Linked DNA regions of Homo sapiens: region 1 is linked to region 2. The links come from fine-mapping of genetic effects on gene expression. A gene starts in region 2. The other region holds a variant in brackets. All regions are shown on one strand. Distances are between the middles of the regions.

Region 1 (11,937 bases), 28 kb before region 2:
TACCATTTGTATAAAGACATCAAAAAGGTGAGAGATTTGCCTTGTCTTTTGAAAGGATCACTTTGGCTACTGTGTTGAAAATACACAAGAGGAGGCCAAAAAAAAAAAAAAAAAAACATAACAAAACACCAAAAAAAAAAACCCAACAAAAAGAAACCTGTTAAGAGGCTACTGCAAATCTATAAATGAGAGAGGATGGTGGCTTGGACCGGGGTGGGAGCAGGGAGCAGTGCGGCACATGAGTTCACATTGTGGCCATACTCTGAGGGTGAGGGTATAGAATTTTCTGATTGACTAGATGTGGCGTCCGAGAGAAAAAGAGTAGCCAAGGATGACACCAATGTTTCTGGCCTGAACAGAAGAGTGAAACTGTCATTACTGACATAAGAAAACTTTAGGACTAGAAGAACTGGGGAATTAAATGAGAAATCAGAAGTTTGTTTTCAGTTGTGTTGAACCTGAAATTTCTATTAGATGTCAAATAGGGAGCTGGAAATGTGTCAGGCGTTTATTAGCAAGCACCAGGCTAATATATTAATCTGAGAGCTGCGGCACTGGGGTGACACATAAAGTCACAGAACTCAATGAAATCCACGAGGGAATAAATGCAGGTATATAAGAAGAGAAGTCCAGGGATTAAGCTCTGGAACATTCCAATGCTTTGGCAGTCTAGGAGCTGAAGAGGAACCAGCAAAGGAGGCCAAGAAGGAGCTGCCAGTATGAATGGAAAATAAATATATTATTTCCATGAGAAAGGGGTAAGAATATTTTGGAAAGGAAATAATGCCATGTTGTATACAGGAAACTATGTGTAGTTAAGAACTACTAGAGTATAAAGTATAAAGTCAGAAATTGAGACAAGAGCTGCTATTGCTAGGCAGAAGAGACTGAGCTTTCCCCTGTGGGATATATGGAATCACAATAGATACAAGCAGTAGAGGGAAGGCGTTACATTGGTTTTTAGGAGGACCACTCCAGCTTCAGGGTATTGGATGAAGTTTTGTGGGGTTCTGGGAAGGAAAGGTAGGCCAGGCTGTAAACAGAAAACCTTAAGATGGTTTTCCAGTATGACCAGACAAACATTGCAAAAAGTAGATGATAGGCCATTAGGCACACAACTAAAATGAGAGAAACATAATTATCATTATAATATGCAAGTACAGACTAAAATTATGGTATTCACAAATGATCTGCTTGTTTTAAAATAACCAAATTACCAGGAGAAGAATACAATATCTCAGACAAGGGAGATGATGAAGACCCAGAATTAGAGCAGTGATAAACTGCCCATTAACTGACATAAGAAACAGATGACTCACAGTCTGGGGAAGGAGAAGGTGATGACGTCTGTTTTTGATGTTTTGTATTTGAGATGTTGGTGGAATTATCAAGAAGCTATGCTTGGCAGGGGGATACATAAGTTTGAAATTTAAGGGGGAGTTTAGAACTCAAAACAGATTTGGGAGTTATCAAAACAGAGGTTGTATGTAAACTACCAGAGTGGATGAGACTACCTATGATAGAAGTCAGTATTTTTCTTCAAACCTACTACTAGGGACAGGATGAGGGTAAGAGAGATGATGGAAAAGAAGCAAATATGGTAGGAGGAAGGAAAAAAAAAGACTGGGATAGAAAAAGAAGTGGAGAATAGAAGAAAAACAGGCAATAGATAGGCATTCTAAGCCAGGCATACCATTAATTCTGCGCAAACATCTGTGGTTTTTACCATCCTCTCCCAAGCCAAATAGCATATTTATTGGCTTTTTTGACCAAAGTTGCATTTCAAACTGATTACTTCAGTAAACAGTCTACAGTGATGCTTTTTTTTTTTAAACTTGGCTTACTAAAACTACACTGTTATTAGAGTTAGCAAAGTATATTTTTATTCAACAATGTACTGGGCTATACGCCAAGGATACAAAAATGAGTGAGACACAATTCTTTGCTCCAAGAACGTTTAACCAGGATGCATGATCCAGAAACAAACAGAATGATCTTTTCAACATGCAAATTTGATCCATCACTCTACTTAAAGCCCTCTGAAGCAGAGATTGCTAGTTGTCTCTCAGTAACCATATTTCTCTTCTTCTCTCATGTTTAACATGGTCATCGAGAAGAAAGGCTACACTCCCCCCTTCCTTGTGGGTAGATGTGGCCATATAACCAACTTCTAAATGTAAGTGGAAATGACGTCAGCAATGTCTAGAAAGTGTTCTTGAAGAGGAGGACATTTACTTCTCTTTCCTACTTTCTTTGGTCTGCTGGCTACAATGTAGATGTGATGGTTGGAACCGCAGAGTCCCCCTTAGACCAAGAGGGGACCTTGGAAATGGAGGCTACACGTGGCAGAGAAACAAGATAGAAGGAGTGTGGGCACCTGGAAGCTGTGGACTAGCTACAGACTTTTTGAATGCAGAGAAGATTAGCTAAGCCATTATTTTGTTGTTGTTGTTTCTGGTGGCTGATAACCAACTAATACACCTTTAATGTGATAATTATCATAGAATTATGTCTACCTTCTAGCTCTATTTTATTATCTATCTTTGTCTACCTATCCATCCATCCTGATGTCTGACTCTAAAGTGGAAATGGAATTCATAACAGATTCAATACAGAAAATGCAGTGCTTATCTGGTGAAAACACTAATATTTCCAGGTGAAAATTCAAGTATTTATTAACAGAAATACTAATTTTTTTAATCTAAAAAGTCACTAAACTCAATAAGTTTGCAACATTAAAATAAAATTCGTTCTTCAATAATACATCAGTATTATTGATTTCTATTATTAGAATAATTTCGTTAATATTTTAACTTACTTCTTTTGAAGGATTCATTGGTAATGTAAAGATAGTTTTCCAGTATGACCAGACAAACATTGCAAAAAGTAGATGATAGGCCATCAGGCACACAACTAAAATGAGAAAAACATAATTATCATTATAATATGCAAATACATACTAAAATTATGACAGTCACAACCGATCTGCTTGTTTTAAAATAACCAAATTACCAATTATAATACATTATGAAAGTTCCTTTACTTTATACTAGAATAAACACAACTCAACGAATTTATTTCCAAAGCCAAGAGTTTTTTACAAAAATTCCTAAATGCATAATGAGATCTATGCCCATGAATAAAAGCCTCCCATCTGTAGACAGACCATCTATTGGCAAAATCACTAACAAGGACCTTTTCTAAATTGTAAAAATGAGGCAGTTACGCCTCCAAATTTAAACAGCAAACACAGCATTAAAAACAAGTGTTAAAACACTCAGGCTTTAAGAACTTTGCTTTACTGACACAGATAACAAAGGCAGTTCCTATTTGAGAAGCTGTTTGCTTATTTGCTTGGCTCTAGTCAAAGCTGGTGTAATGATAACACATTTAAATGGAGAACATCTGGACAAAGAGATTTCCTTCAGTGGGAGTTCAAGTGTCTTATTTATTACATGGGACAATTGTTTTAAAAAAGTGTTCTGAATACTTTTTTCAGTAATGCATATAAACACACTCTGGGTGGTGTTATAAAGTCTTGAAATACTATCCAAAATTTTCTTTTCTTTTCTTTCCTTTTTTTTGAGACAGGGTCTCACTCTGTCGCCCAGGCTGGAGTGCAGTGGCTCACTGCCACCTCCGCCCCCTGGGGCTCAAGCAATCCTCCTACCTCAGCCTCCTGAGTGGCTGGGATTACAGGCATGCCCCACCTCACCTGGCTAATGTTAGTATTTTTCTTTTTTTTTTTAAGTAGAGACAGGGTTTCACCATGCTGGCCAGGCTGGTCTTGAACTTCTGACCTCAAATGATCTGCCCGCTTTGGCCTCCCAAGGTGCTGAGATTACAGGCATGAGCCACTGTGCCCGGCCCAAATTTTAAATATTAATTTTCTATATGGTGATAATGCTTCCTTCTGGGTAATACATTAATACACAATTTAATTCTGTAAGATATCATTGAATAAAATATGCTAATTTAAATATAGCATATTTGGCATTTTAAAACTTTAATAGCAATTTTAAATTTTTCTAAAGAATGAGGATACTCATAGAATCATTAAAAATTTGAATTATTCAATAAGGCACTTAAATCGGTGTGAGATGACTAAAGCCAACAATATTTTTCATAAATTATGTAGGTGACTCAGTTATAAGTTCATAATCTGAATTAGGAAAGGAAATTGTTGATATCCCTATACCTCAAAGCCTTAAGAATCTCTGGCACAATGACAGCCATTTCAGGATAGAATTCTTTGCCAAGGGTCTGACAGAATTCAATCTGCAAACTTAAGAGAAATGAGACATCTTTAACCCTAGCTTGTCTCCACATTCTCAAACAACAATTTATTAATCCCAACCAAATCTAAGTGAATACAATTTTTTTTCAAACTATTTAAAAAATCTATAACATTAATATAATCTAGCTTACCTTGTTCGCCAGTGTTTTCCATGGACACTGTAAAGAGAAAAAAAGGTAATAGGTTACATGAAGCTTATGGCAAACGGGGCTTGACACAGACATAAGGCATTTAAGTAGCTTAATAATGTGGCTTCCCTTCAAACCAACATTCTCTAAATATTTATTCAACTTTATTTGGAGGAGAGGTGAGCACAGTGTGGAGAGGGTGCAGGAAACGGCTGGAGGCTGCAGTCAGCCATGCCTCCATTGCGCACTTCAGCCCTGGCTCCTGTCCTGCGGAACAAAACTTGTCAAGTGTGCCCCTTGCGGGTCTTATTTCTGTATCATTTGGTTGACTGGTTTTCCTTCCAACTATAGAGTTCAGATAAAAGCAATGCTCTCCAGGTCATTACATTTCCGCAGGCATTTATTGCTCTTGATAAACTGGCAACCACCTGGTGAGCTTTCCACAAAGAATAAAATGTGTCCACAGCACACACTTTTTTTCCCCCTAATTTCTAAAAGTACAAATGCTTATGCACAGTGACTTTACTTGCTCCCTGTTGCACAACGAAAGGCCAGGCAGTGCTGGGAAACTGCCACTCCTCAGCGGCTGTTGTAAATATTCCAAGCTAGCAGGTATTATAGAT[G/A]AGGACAGGGGCCACAAGCACTAAAGCAAGCTGCGGCAAGAAGTTGTATTTAGTAATCAAGACATATGTACGCCTTTTGTATTGTCTATTTGTTTTCCCATTTGGTCTCTCTCTTTGTACTAGAGTCTTTGGAAGTTTTGCCCTATCTCAGCTGTAGCAAGTCTGACTTTGTATATTTTTGTCCTTATTCAGCTTTTCAAAAGGGCACGGGACCTCAGGCCTTGGTGCTGGAATGAAATGCGCTGCCTTCTGAAGCCTGGAACCAGAGGGTAGTGTGAGAAATTTTTAAGATTGCTCAGTCCAACCAATCTCCTGCCCAAGAGAGCTACCAAATATAAGTTCAGGCATTTCTAGAGCTAGCAGAAGCCCGTAGTTTCTTGGAGGGCAGCCCGTTCCACTGTTGGATTGCCCTAAGAATAAGAAAATTCATCCTTCCAGGGTGTTGAAATTGGCTGCTTTGTGACTTTTACCTGTGATACTGAGGCTTCCAAACCATAGCAACAAACAGAAGATCTAAATGACAGATCTTCACATATTTGATGTTATAGTGTCCCCCTTAAATGTTCTAGTTTACACCAACTAATATATGGTTTCCAGATCTCTTACTAACGTAGATGTGGCATCTGTAAATGCTTCCTAGGTTCTCCACTCCTTTTAACATTTCTGATCTCCAGAATGAGACAGGCAGGCCTGGATGACCTTCGATTTACAAATGGCCTGTTCTCCAAGTCCGCTTGTAAGTCAGAGGCTAGTCAGAGTTTGCTTTCTCATAGAATCCCTGAAGCAGCTCATCTGAGGGCACAGGAGAGGCTTGAGGCAAGCCTGTTTTTTAATATCTGAACCTACCGCCACAGGTATGCATTTCTTTCTAGACACTGACTACACCCTGTCTTCAAAAGTGCTCCAAAATTGACAACTCTTTTCTGGATCAAAATTTCCAATCCTTCAGTGGAGCCAATCTAAGGAAAGGAAAAGCAATTTGACTCCATTTGTGCATTTATATATGAATGACCCTTACTGACCATTCCAGAGGTGCTGGTGCTTGCATACAAATGTGTTTGCTACTCCACTGACTCGAGTGGAGAGAACTGAAAACTAAGACAAAGTGACATTTTTGAAAAAGGTATAGTTAGGGGCTGGGCACGGTGGCTCACACCTGTAATCCCAACATTTTGGGAGGCCAAGGTGGGTGGATCACCTGAGGTCAAGAGTTCAAGACCAGCCTGGCCAACATGGCAAAACCCCGTCTCTACTAAAAATACAGAAAATTAATCAGGTGTGGTGACACGCGCCTGTAATCCCAGCTACTTGGAGGCTGAGGCAGGAGAATCGCTTGAACCCGGGAGGCAGAGGTTGCAGTGAGCCAACATCACGCCACTGCGCTCCAGCCTGGGCAACAGAGTGAGACTCTGTCTCAAAAACAACAACAAAAAAAAAGGTGTAGTTGGTACGAGTTGCTAATCTTTTTGACCTGGACCACTACTCTATAAGCCTGATATGCATTCAAAGACTTTGTTTTTAAAGCTATTATTATTATTATTATTATTGCCATTCACAGTTTGCTTTTCCCTAAATGTAATTCAAAATCCACAGATGTTCTATTTTTTTAAAAGTACACAACTTACACATAAATTCATCTTTATAGTAAATAATTGTGTAACATTTGTAGAATGAAAGGGATCAGTTCAAAAGGCTGTATCCAATTACACTTTCGCCAAGATTATGAGCCGGTTCAATTTCCTGTAAACGTAACTCTGTTTAATTTTTGTCGACATCATAGGCCTAAATAAAAATCATTATTTTAGCATTCATTTCCCTTATTATTAGTGCAGTTTGGCATTATTTTTAAAACACTATGATTGGGATTTCCTTTCTCTTCTATGTGAATGATTATTTTCCTATTGGCCTACTTAGTTACTGAGAGCCTTTTATATATTCTGGACAGAAATCTCATATCTGTTATATATATATTGCAAATAAAACTGCATATAGCTATTTTAAATGATTTAATAAGTACTAGCAACATTTTTATCACTTGCCACTGATTAAGTAACATTATCAAAGTTTGCAAATTAACTTATTTCATTAACAGATATATGGACTATGCAAGGTTTTGCTTTGTGATACTCAGGAAATGAATGTTCTTTCAACCATGGTTACTTAATTAGTAAATCAGTGATTTACCTTGTAATTTTCAGTTTAATGGCAGAGTTGTCAAGTTCAAAGTTTCCTTTCTCACAGAGTAAAAACACATAAAATACAAAGTTATTGTCAAATGCAAATATTTTTGTTCAAAAGTAACTGTTCAAGAAAAGATTGCTCAAATTTAGCCTCAAACACTTTTCTAATATTTATGTATATAAAGATAACATATGAAAAATAGAGACTCATTTTTGAAACAATATAGATGGTAATCAAATATAATTTGATTATTTATAACAATACAAAAACTAAATAGCAATACTGAACATAATTGGGACAGGTCTTCTAAAAATAACTATTGGTTTTAATGTGGATTTTGAGTTTTAATCCAGGATTATTTAATTTTCTTACTTCACAGACAGAATTTCAATTTGTTTGATTTAACAATGATGCTGATACCTATTCTTCAATTTTTACCATAGAGAAATTTCAAGTGTTGTATAGCCTTCTTTATCTCATTTCCTTTAAACCAGTTATTGAGATAAATTAATAGTTATTTCAATTTTTGTCAACAGAAAACTGAGGTTTACTCAGTTTTTACTAAAGCAAATGAGCTTTATTCTCAAAGTCACGACGAATAGCACATTAATTCTACCTTAGAAATTCTTTTATTTTCAATTTAAACATTTCCTGCCTGTAACAAAAACGTTACAACTTCCAGCTCTGCTGGATCATATTAAAATTAATTCCTCATTAAAGCACAAGAACTGGCATAGAGCATCTGCCCCATTAATGTTTACTGAGTAAGAGACTGACTTAGACAAACAGACCATGACAACTAATTTGAATCACATAAAACTGGTATATCAAAGCGGACATATGAGAAGTATTCATTTTTCTTTTGTGGGCATGAAAAACTCAAGAGAAAAGTTATTTCTATTACCATGTTAGCTTAGCACACCATAGCACTCAACTGATAGTTGAAAAAAGCGAAAGTAATCTCTTCTGTGAGGTGAAGAAAACACTTCTCTAAAGAGAGGAGAGAGGGAGAAGACAAAATGGTTCCTGTTCCTTTAAAAAGGAAAAAGCTGAGGGAGATACTGGCTTCAACTGGGCTTCAAGCAACTTTGAAGACAGACAGGGTCTATAAGTTCACAGGGTTCCCTCCACCCCCAGCTTGGTTTTGGTTCTTCCTTAGTATTGTACTTTTTTATAGTTGAATTTGTCAAAATGGAAAAGAGATTATTACTAAGCATAATAGCACCAAAGAGCAATGGCTGGGGATAAAGAAGGCAAGGTCCAATCCTGCCTCTGCCACTTGCTGGCTTACATAAGCTATCCCACTTATTCCACTACAAAATGAGGGTGATTGCTGCAGCAGTAGCATTAGGGCTGTAGCGAGAATTCAAAGGGACAATAAAACAATGTACTTAACACAGTGCCTTGTGTAGAGTAAGCCCCATGAATGTACAATTATAATATATCATCTTTCATCTTGATAATATTAACTGTAATGTATAACGTATAGGAAAGGGGGCTAAACAAGGAAGACAAATTACAAAGAGAAAAGTAATATTTGTACAGGCTCCTGAAAGAAATAAATGCAAAATGTTGAACAAAAATAGACTTGGCGAGTGAAAATAAAAGGTGAAAAATAATGTAAATCTGAATTATCTTATAAGTCAATTGCCTTTTTAAACGGATGTGTCATTTCAGAAACTTGTTTAAACCAAAAAAGTGGTCTTCATTCTTAACACAGAGTAATGATGAGATGTTAAAACTTCGATCTTGATGTGCCAGTTAGTCCTTTTGAGAACTTAAATGTGAAAGAATCTATTTTGGATAGGCACTGTTTAACTTAATGAATAAAAACAATTACTTTAAAAAAAAATAAAGACCTAAATCTTATAATCACCCCAAAGAAGTTAGGTGCAGTTTATTCCTGGGAATTAAAAGCATTGCTATTATTACACTAAAATATTTACCAATCCTACATCTGGTGGATGGCACCATTCATACCATCTAAATACACACAATAGGAACACTGTGAATCACAATTTTAATTTTAATTTCAAACACTTATTTGCCTCATTTTATCTTGGATTAGCCTAATTTCTTTTTGGTCCATGCCCTACAATGATAATATTTTGCTTTAGCAATTTCTAATCTTCCAATATACCTCCAGAACTTCAAGTTCCTCTGTGATTAATTGTGGGAACTGCAGCACTTTCTTGGCCCTGACGGTATATAGGAAGAGAGAAAGTGAAAAAGGTAAATTACTACTATAGTTACCAAGAATGTTCCTGTTTGCCAAAAGTAAAATTATGGCCTTCAGGAATCACATTTTGGGCTGGGCGGCCCACGCATGAAATGCCAGCACTTCGGGAGGCCAAAGTGGGAGGATCACTTAAGGCCAAGAGTTGGAGATCAGCCTGGACAACACATTGAGACTGTGTCTCTACAAATAAACTTTTTTTTTTAGCTGGGTGTGGTGGCACTGCCTGTGGTCCCAGCTACTTGGGAGACTGGGGGCAGGAGAACTGATTGAGCCCAGTAGTTCAAGGCTGCACTAAGCTATGATCACATCACTGTACTCCAGCCTGTGCGATAGAGTGAGACCCTGTTTCTTAAAACAAAAAGAAGAAGAAATAAAGAAAACAAAAAAAGAACTTCATCTTAAAATCTAGAACCATCATCGATGCTACAAAGCTTGTAGATTGGGTCACCAGTTGTATTATCTGGCTGCGCTTTACGCTCACCCCCTCCACCGCCACTGATCATTCCCGTAAGAAAGACAGGACAACCAGGCACAGTGGCTCAAACCTCTAATCCCAGCACTTTGGGAGGCCAAGGTGAGAGCATAGTTTTGAGGCCAGGAGTTTGAGATTGGCCCGGGCAACACAGTGAAACATCATCTCTACAAAAAAATTTAAAAATTAGCCAGGCATAGTGGTGCCCACCCATGGTTCCAGCTACTCGGGAGGCTGAGGTGGGAAGATCACTTGAGCACAGGAGGTCGAGGCTGCAGTGAGCTGTGATCCTGCTACTGCATTCAAGCCTGGGCAACAGAGCGTGACCCTGTCTCAAAAAAAAGAGAGAAAGAAACAGAGTAGGACAACATATAAAAAGGCTGAACTAATCAGTCCTCAGTTTAGAATTGGTAAGACTGATAAGAGTGACAGTTTTTTGTTATAACATTAATTGTTTTTTAAGAAATCCTTGTGTAAAAATAAAACAGGTAAAATTGAAGTTAAAGAGTGAGACTGTCAAAGTAATAACCCATAATATAGAAAAGGATGACAAACTGCTCCTTAATCCAACCTGGCTTGAATGAAACATCCTTTCAAATGTATACCTCCCTTATCTCTTTTGACTGAACTACCAAGCAATCATTTAATCCTAGAACCCTTGGTCCAAACACAGCTAGATGCCTGTTTCTATAAATAAAGTTTTATTGAAACATGTATGCATCCATTCACTTACATGGCTACTTATGTGCTACAATGACAGAGTTAGGTAGCTGAGACAGGGAAAGTATGGACTGCAAAGCCTAAAATATTTACTGTTTAGCCTTTTATGAAGAAAGTATTCCAGCCCTATGTATTAGTCAGGGTTCTCCACAGAAAAAGATTTAATAGGATGTGTGTGTATGTGTATATATAGATACTATATATTAATATAGTCTAGAATGATTTATATATATTAATTTAGTCTAGAATGATTTAAATTCAACCTTGATTAAAAGCAGGAGATCATCTCAACGGTTATTCCACTCGTACATTTTTTACCAATTGATTATTTAAAAATTGGCTTTGGTGATTATTATTAAAGTGTTACTGTCCTAAATGGTATCTAATGAGATACAGCAGCCTAGTAAACTGATGGTAACTTAAATCTAGTTGAACTTTTAGTCATAAATATATCCAAAATTCAAGCTTTCAGATACTTACATGGCTACTTGTGTGCTACTACACCTTCATAATAGACAAAAAATGAACTCCCCCTTTTGACTTAGCAAAGAACAGTAAAGTGTTTCTAAAACAATGTGATTTTGGGGTATTTTATTGCAAATGTATATTGCTGTGATTTTAACATTTATTTTCTTAATCTGAATTTTCTTTTTCTTGTCTTCAAATTCAATCTCTCTCCTTTGGAGGAATAATTTACCTTTATTGCTCATACACACTAACTTTTCAATATAAAACCACTATGCAATTTCCAGCCTAGCCTCAGACATCTGATAATGAAGAATACCGCCCCCCACCCCCACACACACAAACACACACACACACACACACACAAACACCCCAAAACAGAGACTTGGTCCTAATGGATGAATCTGAAGGATAACTTTATAGCCAAGCTCTACATTTTTTCTGTTTATCTTTAACTCATTTATTGAGAAACATTAATTGACTATACTGTGCTTACACTGTTGAGAACAAAATGGTAAATAAGACTCTACCTCTGTGCTGAAGCTTAGCATTTATGATATCATTTTAGTTAGAAGTAAAAACTAACTGAAAAAACAAGGATGTAGTTATGAAAACATTTTCAGTTAATTCACAGAAGTAGCTCACATTCAAAAGATTATGACAAAAATACTTTATGCTTTAATATCTTTACAATATGCTTTAACATCTCCTGTCCCAACAAAGTCTGTCCCCTGACTTCATGTCTCTAGCTGCCATCCCACTTTCTGGCCTTTTCACAGGAAAATTTAACAATCATCCAAAATCACTCTCTC
Region 2 (11,937 bases):
ACAGCCCCAGCAGTCTCTATCCTTGAGCCTGCAGTGGCCTTCAATGAATGGTAGGTCATAACTTCACAGAATCCAAGTAGGAGGCTTTGTGTATTTTGTTCTTAGGGATGTTTGTTTTCTTGTTTGTTTAAAAGAATGAAAACATGGCAGCGTATCTCTCAAACTGATCCCTAAGTATTATAATCACTGTGGAATATAACAGGCTGCAATCACTGCTGAAGGATGTTTAGTAATAAAGACAGCAAAACTGCGAGTAAAACCTCAAGATTCTAGTGGTCTAGCTTCCCACATACTCCAAAGCTCAGCAAACTTTTGCCCAAGGGCCAAGATTGGCCAAATATTTTTGTTGAATAAAAGCCACGCCCATTTGTTAAAGTATCTTCTATGGCCGCTCTCTAAGATAGCAGAGTTGAGTGGTTGGAACAGAGATCACACGGCTTGCAAAGCCAAAAATATGTACTATATAGCCCCAAACTACAAAGCCCTTTAAATCTCTAAAATTGTGTAAAGACTGTTGGCTTATTTTCAGAGCTCTGTCAACTCTCTGTAAACGATAATAAAGTTAAAAAGAGTTGCTGCATAACTTCAATGGGCTAAGATATTTGGAGAGGGGTTTGCTGGGAAAAGGAGACATCTGGACATCTGCATTACAGCAGCTAAGGTCATAGCTGACACCTCCGCTAGGTAACTCGGAGGAAGGACATTGAACTTGTGGCAACTCTGGAATTTAGTTTAACTCTTTCGTTTAAAAATACAGAAGGGGTTAGCCTGGATGACCTTTAAGCTTTTGAAAATTCATGATCGTTTAAAATGACGTAACTAAAACCGTAAGCAAATTCAGAACTACATGACTGCGCAACATCATCATAAACGTCCCATAGCACCTGCCTAAGGAGCAGGAAAGTAATATATTTAAGAAAAATGGGAACTGAACTGGTTACACAAGTGTATGTGGAAGTTTCTTGTACTATTGAAACTTTTCAGTAAATCTGAAATAAAGAAAACGGTATGAAATAGTTAAAACAATTTAAATGTTAGCACTTAAAAGGGGAAACTTCAGTGAACCTTCTTCAACAAGCGAAGTTAACACAGCAGCAGCCATAAGGGATCTGTAAAACATAAACCACGTCGTGTGCTCGCTGAATGGAGCATGCCTGAGGCTGCAGACCTCCCTCATTCCCTCTCATAGTGCATCCTAAAGTTCCCCGTACAAATGTTACCTTTGAGTTTATCTTACTTGACGGAAACCAACCTAATATCTAAAGAGAGCAAAGAGAGTTAAAACACAAAAGAAGCCAGGAGTGGAGAGAGGGACAGGAGGGACAGGGGAGAGGGAAAAGGAGTGGTAAGAGAAGGAAAGGATGGAGGGGGAGGAATACAAATAGAAGAGCCTCGTTAATCAACAAACGAGATAAACGTGGTCCAAATGATTAGAAGTATAACTGTCTTTTGTGATCTTTTCTTTGGCAGAATAGGAAGCTGACTTAACCAAAAATACTTGACTCTCACACAATATATGTACATCCCATATATTTTACATATACACATATTCCAAAAAGAGAGGTTATTTTTATAAAATACAAACACTAAGCAAAAATTATGCTAACTGAAAAAGTGCCTAGAGAGCCACATACATCCACGTTGTTAAATATAGAAACTAACTGTAATGAGAATCATTATCTCCAGTTTCCAAGGATACCAGGATAAGCACTACTCCTAAATTGCAGTTCATTCAGCAAAGGGCACAGAATAATTTATATTCAGGGTCATCCCTAGCTGAGAGCAGATGTGGAAGGAGGACCAGGGTAAATCACCTTGTTTCTTCTATTCCATTTGCTACCTGATCCAGTTCCCAGCCCTCGACCCCCACACTCTGGTCCCAACCTTGGCCAATGTTTTATGGAAGAAATTTGGAAAATCTGCTTGTAAATGGCAACTTCCAAGAGAAAAAGAATCTTCAAAGGGCAGGGCAGTCTGAGATGTGATTAATACTGGGGGTAGGGTGGGGGCTGGTATTTCCATTTGCTTTGTCTGTGAAAAGGAAAGGAGTCTGGGAGTCTGGTTTTGTGTGTCAGTCACACTAGTCGCCATCTTTCCCAGTGCCTATAAGGAAATTTCAACTTCCCACTCGACCAAGGCTATGCAAAGCTTGCCACTCATAAACTGCCATGGTCTCTAGAATCAAATTCAGCTTCAACTTGTTCTTCCTTCTTAGACTCTAGAATCTAGATCTTTCATAACAATTACTTTTTGTTTCTACAGCAATAAAAATATAAAAGCTACTTTCTGAAAACCTAGGAGATAGTGCCTCTGAATCATTTATTTGTTTATTCAAGACCACTTACTGTTGTTTTCAATGTGGCAGGCATTGCGCCAGGCCAGGCAGACAGGCATTACGCCAGGCAGACAGGCATTGCGCCAGGCAGGCAGGGACAAGAAGTGATAGATAAGGTATCAATAACAGGCCACGCCACTTAGGCAGTTTAAAAAGAGGCATTCTTCCTCTTAGTCAAATCGTCACTTACTAAAATACTGATGCGGATTTTATGGATACTCTAGATTTGTCTTAAACTTACAGAAAGTACATATAAACATACGATTCAGATATAATACCAATTTTCCATTTAGTTCCTTCCCCATCACCTGTCTACCCAATACAATAATAAGATCTGCCATATAGCACCTCAGCTAGGAGCAGACATCCTTCTAACGGGCAGAAGAGCTCTCTCTGCCTTCAAATGCTTCCTCTTAATGGACAGGAGACACTGTACCAAGATAAGCGTCTTAGCTTAATGTGATAATACAGGAGAATAGGCTATTTTGATAATGAAGGCCTTCTAGGATGTCCCTTCTTTGCAGGTTATATTAATCGATACTGGTCACTGTTTTTAAGAGGACGAAGGAATGAAACACAACAAAGGTTCCCAACAGTTACGTAACATATACAGTCTATCTCAATAAGGCAAGCTATTTTAAGATTAACAGTTAATACAAAATTTACTACACGTCCTTTCCTATATATTTTAGATGACTTGACGACTGCATACCTAAATGCATCCTCATGATAATGCCTGTACAGCCTCATCTTTTCCCAACAACAGACTCAAGGTTTTTTTTTTGGACTATTAAGCTTGTTTCTAAATCCCTTCAAGTAATAACAGCAAATTTTAAAACTATATGAAATAAAAGTCTCGGTTCTCTTACAACTTACATCAGTGATTATTTTGATGTATTATTATGACACTTTCTCACAAGGCGCAACATTTTGAGGTAAGATGGCTTCAGACAAGATTTTATGTCTGAATCTTGAGGCTTTGAAAATGCTGAGCTTGTGAAGGCTCAATATAATAGGCCACTATTTCATCTTTTCCCTCGTCCCACCCAAAGCTAGCACTTGGTAGGGCAAAAACAGACACTTTGTTAGGTGGAGCACCAAACACAGAAAGCATTCACAAGTCACTGGCAGAAAGGTCATTTTCTGTTTTAACATCTTTTTCTGATAACCCAGATCAGTTTTCATAAAACCCCTGAAGGTAGAAACCAGCTTACATTAAGCGACATCATTGTACTCCCTACTTGTGCATAATAATCAACTTTTTAAAAAATTTTAATCTTCAGCATTAAAAGTATCCTACCCACCAATTCAGGAACCTCGAACTCGGACTGGAGCCACTTCGCTCTCTGGATGTAAAAACCTCAGACGATCACCTCTTTTTTTCTCTCCCTACTGTTCAAACACCTAAATTATGGTTTAGTGTGTTGCACATGTCCTCAAAAATACTTTCTAGTAGCTCACCTCCTCCACATCCTTTTAAACTAGAAAAGTGTCCAACTGGCAATCCTCAAATCATAAAGGCAGCAAAAACGCCCCTGAGCGCTGTCACAAATTTTTAACAAGTGCATTGACGCCAACCAGCAAGGGATCCAGCTCCGCCGCCAAGGCCAGCACCCCCGCGCGGGTCTGGCGCAGCTCGGGGCCGGGCCCAGCTCAGCCCTTCAGCCCCCGGCGCGCCTCGCCGGCCTCGGCCTCCCCTCTCCACAGCGGTCCCGGGGACCTTCCGCCCCTCTAGGGGGTGTGGCCGAGGCGGCGGCGGTGAGCGGAAGGCGGCGGGAGGCTCGGCGGCGAGTGCGGGGCGGAGGCGCCACCTTAACCCGAGAGTTGGGAGGGGAGGGCGAGGGGCGTGCGCGTGGAAGAAGCTGCCCCGAGGCTGCTTTTAGCGGCGGAGCCGGCGGGACGCGGCAGGTTGGCAGCGCCCGGGGCGCATCCGGGGGGCGAGAGCGGAGGAGCGGCTGAGCGTCCCGGGACAGTCGGGGTGGGCTGCGCTGCGCTGGGGGCGCCGCGGCGGGGGGCGCACTCACCTATGCACAGCTGGATGGCGTAGGCGTAGTAGGACCAGCCGAGCAGGAGGGTGATGAACACCACCGGGATCCAGTACAGCACCCGCCGGCACCGCCGCCTGGCGCTGCTGCCCGGGCCCGAGGGCGCCATCTTCCAGCCGCATCCACCTGCCCAGCTCCGCCGCCGCCCGCGGGCCTGGCTCCGGGGCGGGCTGGGCGGGCCCGGCACCCCTGGCTGGACGGGCTCCTGGGCGGCGGCGGGGTGCGCTGCGGCCACTGCCGCCGCCGTGGCGCTAACTCCCCATCCCGCAGCCCCGAGCCGGCGCGGCGGACTCCCGGCTCCTCAGCCCGGCGGAGGCGGAGGCGGCGGCTGCGAGCGGAGGCCGAGGAGGCGGAGGGGGGCGGTGAGGCGGCGGCGTCGGGAGGCTGCGCTCCGCCCCCGCCGTTCCCCGCCGCCCGGCCGCCTCCCCTGGCGTGGCAGGCTGCGCCCTCGGGCGGGCTCTGCGGGGATGCGGGGCCCTCGCTCGGGCCACCTCGCGGGCTCCCACCGTGGCCCCGCCGCCTCCGGCTCGGCCTCTGGATTCCGGGGAGGCGGGGGCTGCTGGGCGCAGGCCCCCGGGGCGGAGCGGGCGGTGGCGGCCCCTCCCTAGGCGCCCGGCACCCGGGGCAGTTAGGTCGCGAGCGCTTCCGCGCTTGGCGCAGGGCGGGGGTCGGAGGCGAGGCCGGCGGAGCAGCTGCTGCGCTCGGGACTCCGCGCCTGCCGCGACCCAGGCGCCCTGAGAAAGTCTGCAGCACCGAGGCCCGCGTCCCCGCAGCCCGCGTGGAACCCTCGCGCTTCAACTTGCGGGTCCCTGGGAGCCCGCGGGGGCCGCAAGGAGCCTCCCTTTACTACTCGGGCTTTCGGGGGAAGCAGAAATGCACAGCGAAGAGGGGGTGCCGAGCCGGCGTCTGGCATGGGAGGGGCTGTGGAGAGCGAGGAAGAAGCATTTTTGGCTGTGAATCCAGGCACCTCTGGAGTTAGAAACACAAGTTCTTTGCTCTGAGAATGTTGATGCTTTGGATAAATGATTGTGACAGGGGCCGTTCCCACTGTCCCCTCCCTCAAGTACGGTGGTTCCTTCCACCAACTATTTATTCTTTTCCTCAACCCGCTCCTCACTACGGTGTTTACTTTCGTGGTGGCAATTCCAAACTTAGCAGATAGCTGACTCCAAAGCGGTTCCCAAAAAACACCGTAAGGGAACCTAAAGGTAGTCAGCCCAAACCTCTGATTTTATGATTCACGAAATGGAAAATAAACAAATGCCTCCTTTGCTTTTCCTTCATCTGATTATGAACGCACCTGATCCACAGGGAAACATTTCAATCAATGAGTGTGTGTAAATTATGTGCATCACTACTATACATAATAGGCACAATTTTTCTTAACATTAGTGAATATGTGTATTTACACCACACAGCAACCACAGTGAATGAAATTACTTCTTATTCATGTGTAGAAGTAAAAAAAAAATACTGATTTACATGAATTCAGTCAAAGAAATTTAGCTCTGGTGTCTGCGATTATCTTTCTGTGACTGGATTACACAACAAGCTAATCTCTCCCGAAATAGCTACTATGTTACAGCCCCCCACCCCACATCTCTTTCCATTTCTCTTCAAAAATGCATAGAAAATGTCAGTCAAGTTTCTGTGGGACTTTAAATAATTGAAAAGAGAGACATATTATGTCCCAGTGAATCACTTGATTTTGCTGTAGCCTTTTATATTCTCTGTGGATATTCTGTATATTAATGTAAAAATAAAACTTCTCTGGATTCCTTAATGTTTTCCATGAATATTAATCCTGTGTTCCCCCCCAATCAGAAGAGAGTAAAAAACAGGAATTAAAACTTCCTCCTGGGACTGAAATACCCTCACAAAGAGAAGCAAATCAGTGACTGAAGGTCAATAGAGACCATCAAGGTATGAAAAGGAAGGAATCGGATTTTCCATACTGGAAACGGTGGAGAAAGTGCAAATAGTGCCTCTGTAGATCCTGGATGCGACGATGCCCTGTGCTCTTCCTCCTCTCACAGTCCTACAGGGTCTTGAAATCGGAAATGGAATAGCATTCTGCCCAGTTTTCACATCATCTACCCTTTTGGAAAAGTATGCAGGTGTCATATCTTTGAAGGAGCTACATTTTTATTACTCATCTAAGATGTTGTTTAATTGTTCCTATTTATAATAAATATTTGTGAAATATTTTCAACTTTTTTTTGTTATTGCCATTTTAAGGATACTACTATTACTGGGTTTTTCAAGTTCTCTTATCTTAAATACAGAAAAAGTCTGGATTAGGAAGAAGCATCTCCACAGCCACAAGATAACAGGATTGATCTCTGCGTAGTCTCTAATTAGGCATAAGCAGCACGCACAAATGTAAGCTCTTTGGTGAGTAGCCAATCTCTAGATACTAGTCTTTGATGAGAGTGGAAGGAGAGCTTTTATTTTGAGGTATAGAGAGCCTTTGATTTATTTTCTTTTTCTTTAGGACTACATAAACAGAAAAAATAATTTGAAGGTCATAGACAAGAAGAAACTTCACTAGAGACTTACTGTTTAGAAATACAGAAGATTCAACTCACGAATTTTAATTTAAATGTTCAATAAGCATAAGAAATTGTAGGTTTCATGTATAACTGTGATTAAACTGATATGACCACTTATGAAAAAGAAAGCCAGCCACAGCAAAGGAGGAAGAAGGCGACGCTAAGGAAGAGAAGAGACGAGCGGACAGCCAGGCAAGGAGGGGGGTGAGGGGAGTGACTGAGAACGGGAGAAAAGCCCCCTTGCTGGGTTCATCCAGTCCCTAATGACCATGACTCCATCCTCGCTAGGCCTCTGCCTGTATGCTCCTTGCACTCAGCGGTCTAGCAACATCATTCACCTCTCAAATTTTCACAACTCTTATTTTCAGTTCCTGCCCCATGAAGGAATCTCTCTTTTTTTGGGGGGGGGGGGCGGACAGAATTTCGCACTGTTGCCTGGGCTGGAGTGCAATGCCGCCATCTCGGCTCACTGCAACCTCCGCCTCCCGGGTTCAAGCGATTCTCCTGCCTCAGCTTCCCGAGTAGCTGGGATTACAGGTGCCCGCCACCGTGCCCGGCCAATTTTTTGTATTTGTAGTAGAGACAGGGTTTCAGTATGTTGGCCGAACTGGTCTCAAACTCCTGACCTGGTGATCCGCCCGCCTCGGTCTCCGGAAGTGTTGGAATTACAGGTGTGAGCCACCGTGCCCAGCCCAGGAACCTTAAACGTTCCTCCTCTCCCTCCAGCCCAGTCCCCCAAATTCTTGAGTTCCCAAACCTCAAGTCTGCCGTACTTTCATGATTAATACTGCTAATCTTCCTTCTGCCTGCAGATCCAGATTACCATTTTAACATAGTCCCTTGCATAGTATGAATCAAACATAGCATGCTAGCCAAACCCAGGAAGGCGTGGACGCACCTGCTGCTAGAGAACACAGATCCCCCTTAATGTTGCCTATGCCAACCTCATCTCAAGCTTTTCAGCCAAAACACCTACCAGAAACTATTAGGACACTTGCTTGATATTTACTCCTTCCTTTTGGAAGGGTTCTTAGAGGGCAACATTGCAACAAGATATGAGGTCAGTCGTATTAGTCTCATGTATATGAGACGTTGATTGTCTTGAGTTTGCTAAGAGGGTATGATACTTCACAAATACAAGGAGTTCTAAATCTTACAAGGATTGGAAGCAATGAAGCTGAGGTCTGGATCTATATCTTATTTACTAATGGCTCTCCCATCCTTACTAGAGTGGTCTGCATGAATACTGATAGATTCTCTTTCATTATTTTCTCAAACTTAATCTTATCACTCTTTTGGGGGAGAAGAGCTCTTTAGAAGGCAGCAGTCCATGACATCAGTGACTCCAGTGTCAATGTGCATGTTTATAATAGCGGTCAAAACATTCTCTGTGGGAGAAGAATAGCATGCCTAAACCACTTTTTGTTTCTGGAGATACATAAAATAAAAGAAAAGGAATCGCGCTTAGGGAATGTAGGAATGAAGTAATGCTTAGATATGTTTTGGCTGTCAGAGATTTATGTTTGCAATTCAGCTGTAATTATATTGAATAAAATGGGAGATAATTTCAAAAGCCTAAGGATGTCTCTGTATACAGTTGATTGGGTCGAAACACTGGGACAATGTAAAGTGGAGCAAACTGTCCCTGGCAAACCTGCCTTTCAGGCACACTAGGGCTTTCACGGTAGCATTAATGTGTCCTGCCACTAGATGGCAGGCACACACCAAGCAGTGCAGCAGTCTTCACCTTTTCTCCATAGATTTCAATAGTTATCAACTGTTAGCTTAAGCAAGGCAATTATAAATATGAATTATAACTTCATGAACAATTATATATCATTGTAACTAATTATAATTATGTTATAATTGGCCAGGCGCGGTGGCTTACGCCTGTAATCCCAGCACTTTGGGAGGCCAAGGCGGGCAGATCACCTGAGGTCAGGAGTTTGAGAGCTGCCTGGCCAACATGGCGAAACCCCATCTCTACTAAAAATACAAAAAATTAGCTGGGCGTGGTGGCGGGTGCCTGTAATCTCAGCTACTTGGAAGGCTGAGGCAGGAGAACTGCTTGAACCTGGGAGGTGGAGGCTGCAGTGAGCCAAGATCACGCCAATGCACTCCAGCCTGGGCAACAAGAGCAAAACTCCTTCTCAAAACAAAAAGTTATGTTATAATTATACAGTTTTTATATTATAATTTAATGGCTAACGATTAATAAAAACGACAACCCTATTCAAAAAATTTAAAAGACTTAAAGCATTTTTCTATATAGTAAATCGTTCTGATTCTGCGTGCACTTCTTTAGAATTCGCACTAAGGTCAATCTCTTTGGAAATAAAATAGGAAATTTTCATTGAAATAATATTTTTGCTTACACTGTTTCCCTTCTTTGCCCCTAAATGGGGAGGGGCACTGTCTATGAACCCAAAAGGTGAGCAGACATGTCCTTCCAGTGGACTGACACAGCTATACTATGGATCTCTAAGGGGTGATACAATGTCCGAAGTTCAACTGGAGATTATTAGAAGTGGCCGTTGTGGAGTTGAGAGCTGAACAGCCAGCAGAGAGTGACCAAGGGCAGCAGAATTCTGCAGTGTAGTGGCAAGTGTCCAGGGATATTAAGAGCAGCAATGGCATCCTAGGTTGACTGTTCTTGGTGGCAAGATCTTGGCCATGCACCAGCTTCCTTTGTTCCAGCTCAAGCTTGATTCTCCAGGCTTCCTTTTGATTTTGGAGGAGTGCCTATATAACTGCATAACATTTTTTATGTAAGTCAACTAGAGTTGACTTGTGTTTACAACCAAGAACTCTGAATGGCACGTAGTTTTAATTTCATTCTGCATCTCATTGCTTAAAGAGTTAGTTTCAGCTCATGGAGACCAAGGCACCTTGAGAAATAGGGATACAGGAATTTGGGGGTGAAGAAGCTTACTTGGTGCCATTCAAATCACACTCTCTTGACCTGCATTGTTCAATAAGTACCCACTAGTAACATTTGTTGCCACTATTCAAATTTGTTAAAATTAACATGAAATGAAATTGGAAATTCTTAGTTGCAATAGTCACATTTCAAATGCTCAATAGCCACATGTGGCTAGTGGCTACTGCATTGGATGCTGCAGATCTAGAACATTCCATCATTGAAGAAAGTTCTGTTGGACAGAACTGTTTAGACATTTTGTCTTGTCTGAATATTCAAAAGGCTTTATTCTTGTAAATGTAAGAAACAAAAAAGTCCCCTATGTAATAATCCCTTCACTGTTTTATAGAAACAAAAATTAGAGGTAACAGGAAGTTGAAAACAATTTTACGTTTTGGTACTAGGAAATTTCTTCCTTTGAAGAGGAATCCAAAGAGTAAAGAACCACCTTTTCGCTGTGTCTACTGTGAGAATGAAAACCATTCTCTGCAACCAGACTGTCCATATTCCAGAAAATGTAGATATCACTTTGAAGGGATACCCAGTAATTGCGAAAGGCCCTAGAGGAACCCTGTGGATGGACTTCAATCACATCAATGTAGACCTCAGTCTCCTTGGAAAGAAAAAAAATGAGGCTCCGGCACTGACAAAAAATGGTGGGGAAACAGAAAGGAACTGGCTGCCGTTTGCACTATTTGTAGTCATGCACAGGACATGGTCAAGGATGTTGTGCTGGGCTTCCGCTGCAAGATGAGCTCTGTGTGTACTCACTTCTCCATCAATGTCGTTATCCGGAAGAATAGGTCTCTGGTTGAGTTCTGAAATTTCCTCGGTGAAAAATAAATCCACAGGGTTTGGCAGTGGCCAGGTGTTGCTTGTTCAGTATCTCAAGCCCAGAAAGATGAATTAACCCTTGTAGGAAATGACATTGATCTTGTTGCAAATTCAGCTGCTTTGATTCAGCCAGCCACGACAATTAAATAAAAACAAGGATATCAGAAAATGTGTGGATGGTATTTACGTCTCTGAAAAAGGAACAGTTAAGCAGGCTGCTGAATAAGACCTAAGAGTAGTCCAGGTACAGAAACAAGATGCCGGATGATTCCTAAGACCTATTTGTGATATTTAAATGATGCAATAAAAGACCTATTGATTTGGGGGAGAAAAGAAGAGTAAGGTGCCAGTTGGATCATAGAACAGTATACATCGATTTCTTCAACCTAAGGCTTACATGTGTAAATGTAAAAAACAAAAAAGTCCCCTATGTAATAATCCCTTCACTGTTTTATAGAAACAAAAATGAGAAGTAACAGGAAGCTGAAAACAATTTTACGTTTTTGGTACTAGGAGATTTCTTCCTTTGAAGATGAATCTAAAGAGTAAAAAACCATCTTTTCGCTGTGTCTACTGTGAGAATGAAGACCATTGTCTGCAACCAGACTGTCCATGTTCCAGAAAATGTAGATATCTACATGATTACTTTAAAGGGTATGCACGGAGAAACTTAGATTGCTATGTCCGAATTCCTTTACATAAAGCTAAATATTAGATTTAGATTTTAAACCAACAGTGCTTGAAGATATAGCTTTATTCCTGGATAACTCCAGCCTTGAAACACAGAATGGTGTCTTTATCCCGTGGTCGTTAAGACCTTTTCTGTTCTGTTGGAAGAGCAGGTAATCACTGGGGGCACCTGAGGAATAACTGCTTATATTCAATTCTGTCTCTGTCAAATTGTAGGCTAGATTAATCATGTTGGGTTTTCTGTACAGCAGATATGAGTGGAGGTAAAGTCAACGTGTCTTGCCCCGTGGTCTGTGGAAACCCACATTGGCTCTGGTTCAAGACATGCTCCCCTGGAGGAAAAAAAAGAAAGAAAGACAGAAAGAAAGAAAAGAAAATACATCAAATAAGTTTTAATATTTAATTTTAATAAGTACGGACAAGTATTGTCAAAGACTTTACATGTAAGTTGGACATCAAGTTTACACCGCAATTTATAACTGTACAAGGAAAAAAGTCTAACCAGAGTTTTCTCTGGCCTTCAAAAAGAGCAGGCAAAATAAAGAATAAATATTTAATGAT

Evidence for each region. PIP is the estimated chance that this variant, and not a neighbour inherited with it, causes the effect.
Region 1: its variant is fine-mapped to the expression of ZDHHC2 in pancreas (GTEx, PIP above 0.99). The same link has a PIP of 0.9 or more in unexposed skin.

What each region holds. Positions count from the first base shown.
Region 1 is chr8:17,177,307-17,189,243 of GRCh38, reverse strand. ZDHHC2 (zDHHC palmitoyltransferase 2) reads right to left here. Exons shown (of 13, transcript NM_016353.5): 2 at 4,429-4,455; 3 at 2,819-2,913. Among named protein-coding and RNA genes, the nearest start is that of ZDHHC2, 27 kb to the right of the region's middle. The variant G/A (reference allele first, on the strand shown) is at 5,049.
Region 2 is chr8:17,149,276-17,161,212 of GRCh38, reverse strand. It overlaps ZDHHC2 (zDHHC palmitoyltransferase 2), which reads right to left and starts at 4,731. Exons shown (of 13, transcript NM_016353.5): 1 at 4,360-4,731. The coding sequence starts at 4,489. It also overlaps the pseudogene RPL9P20. RefSeq lists a silencer at 3,913-5,272.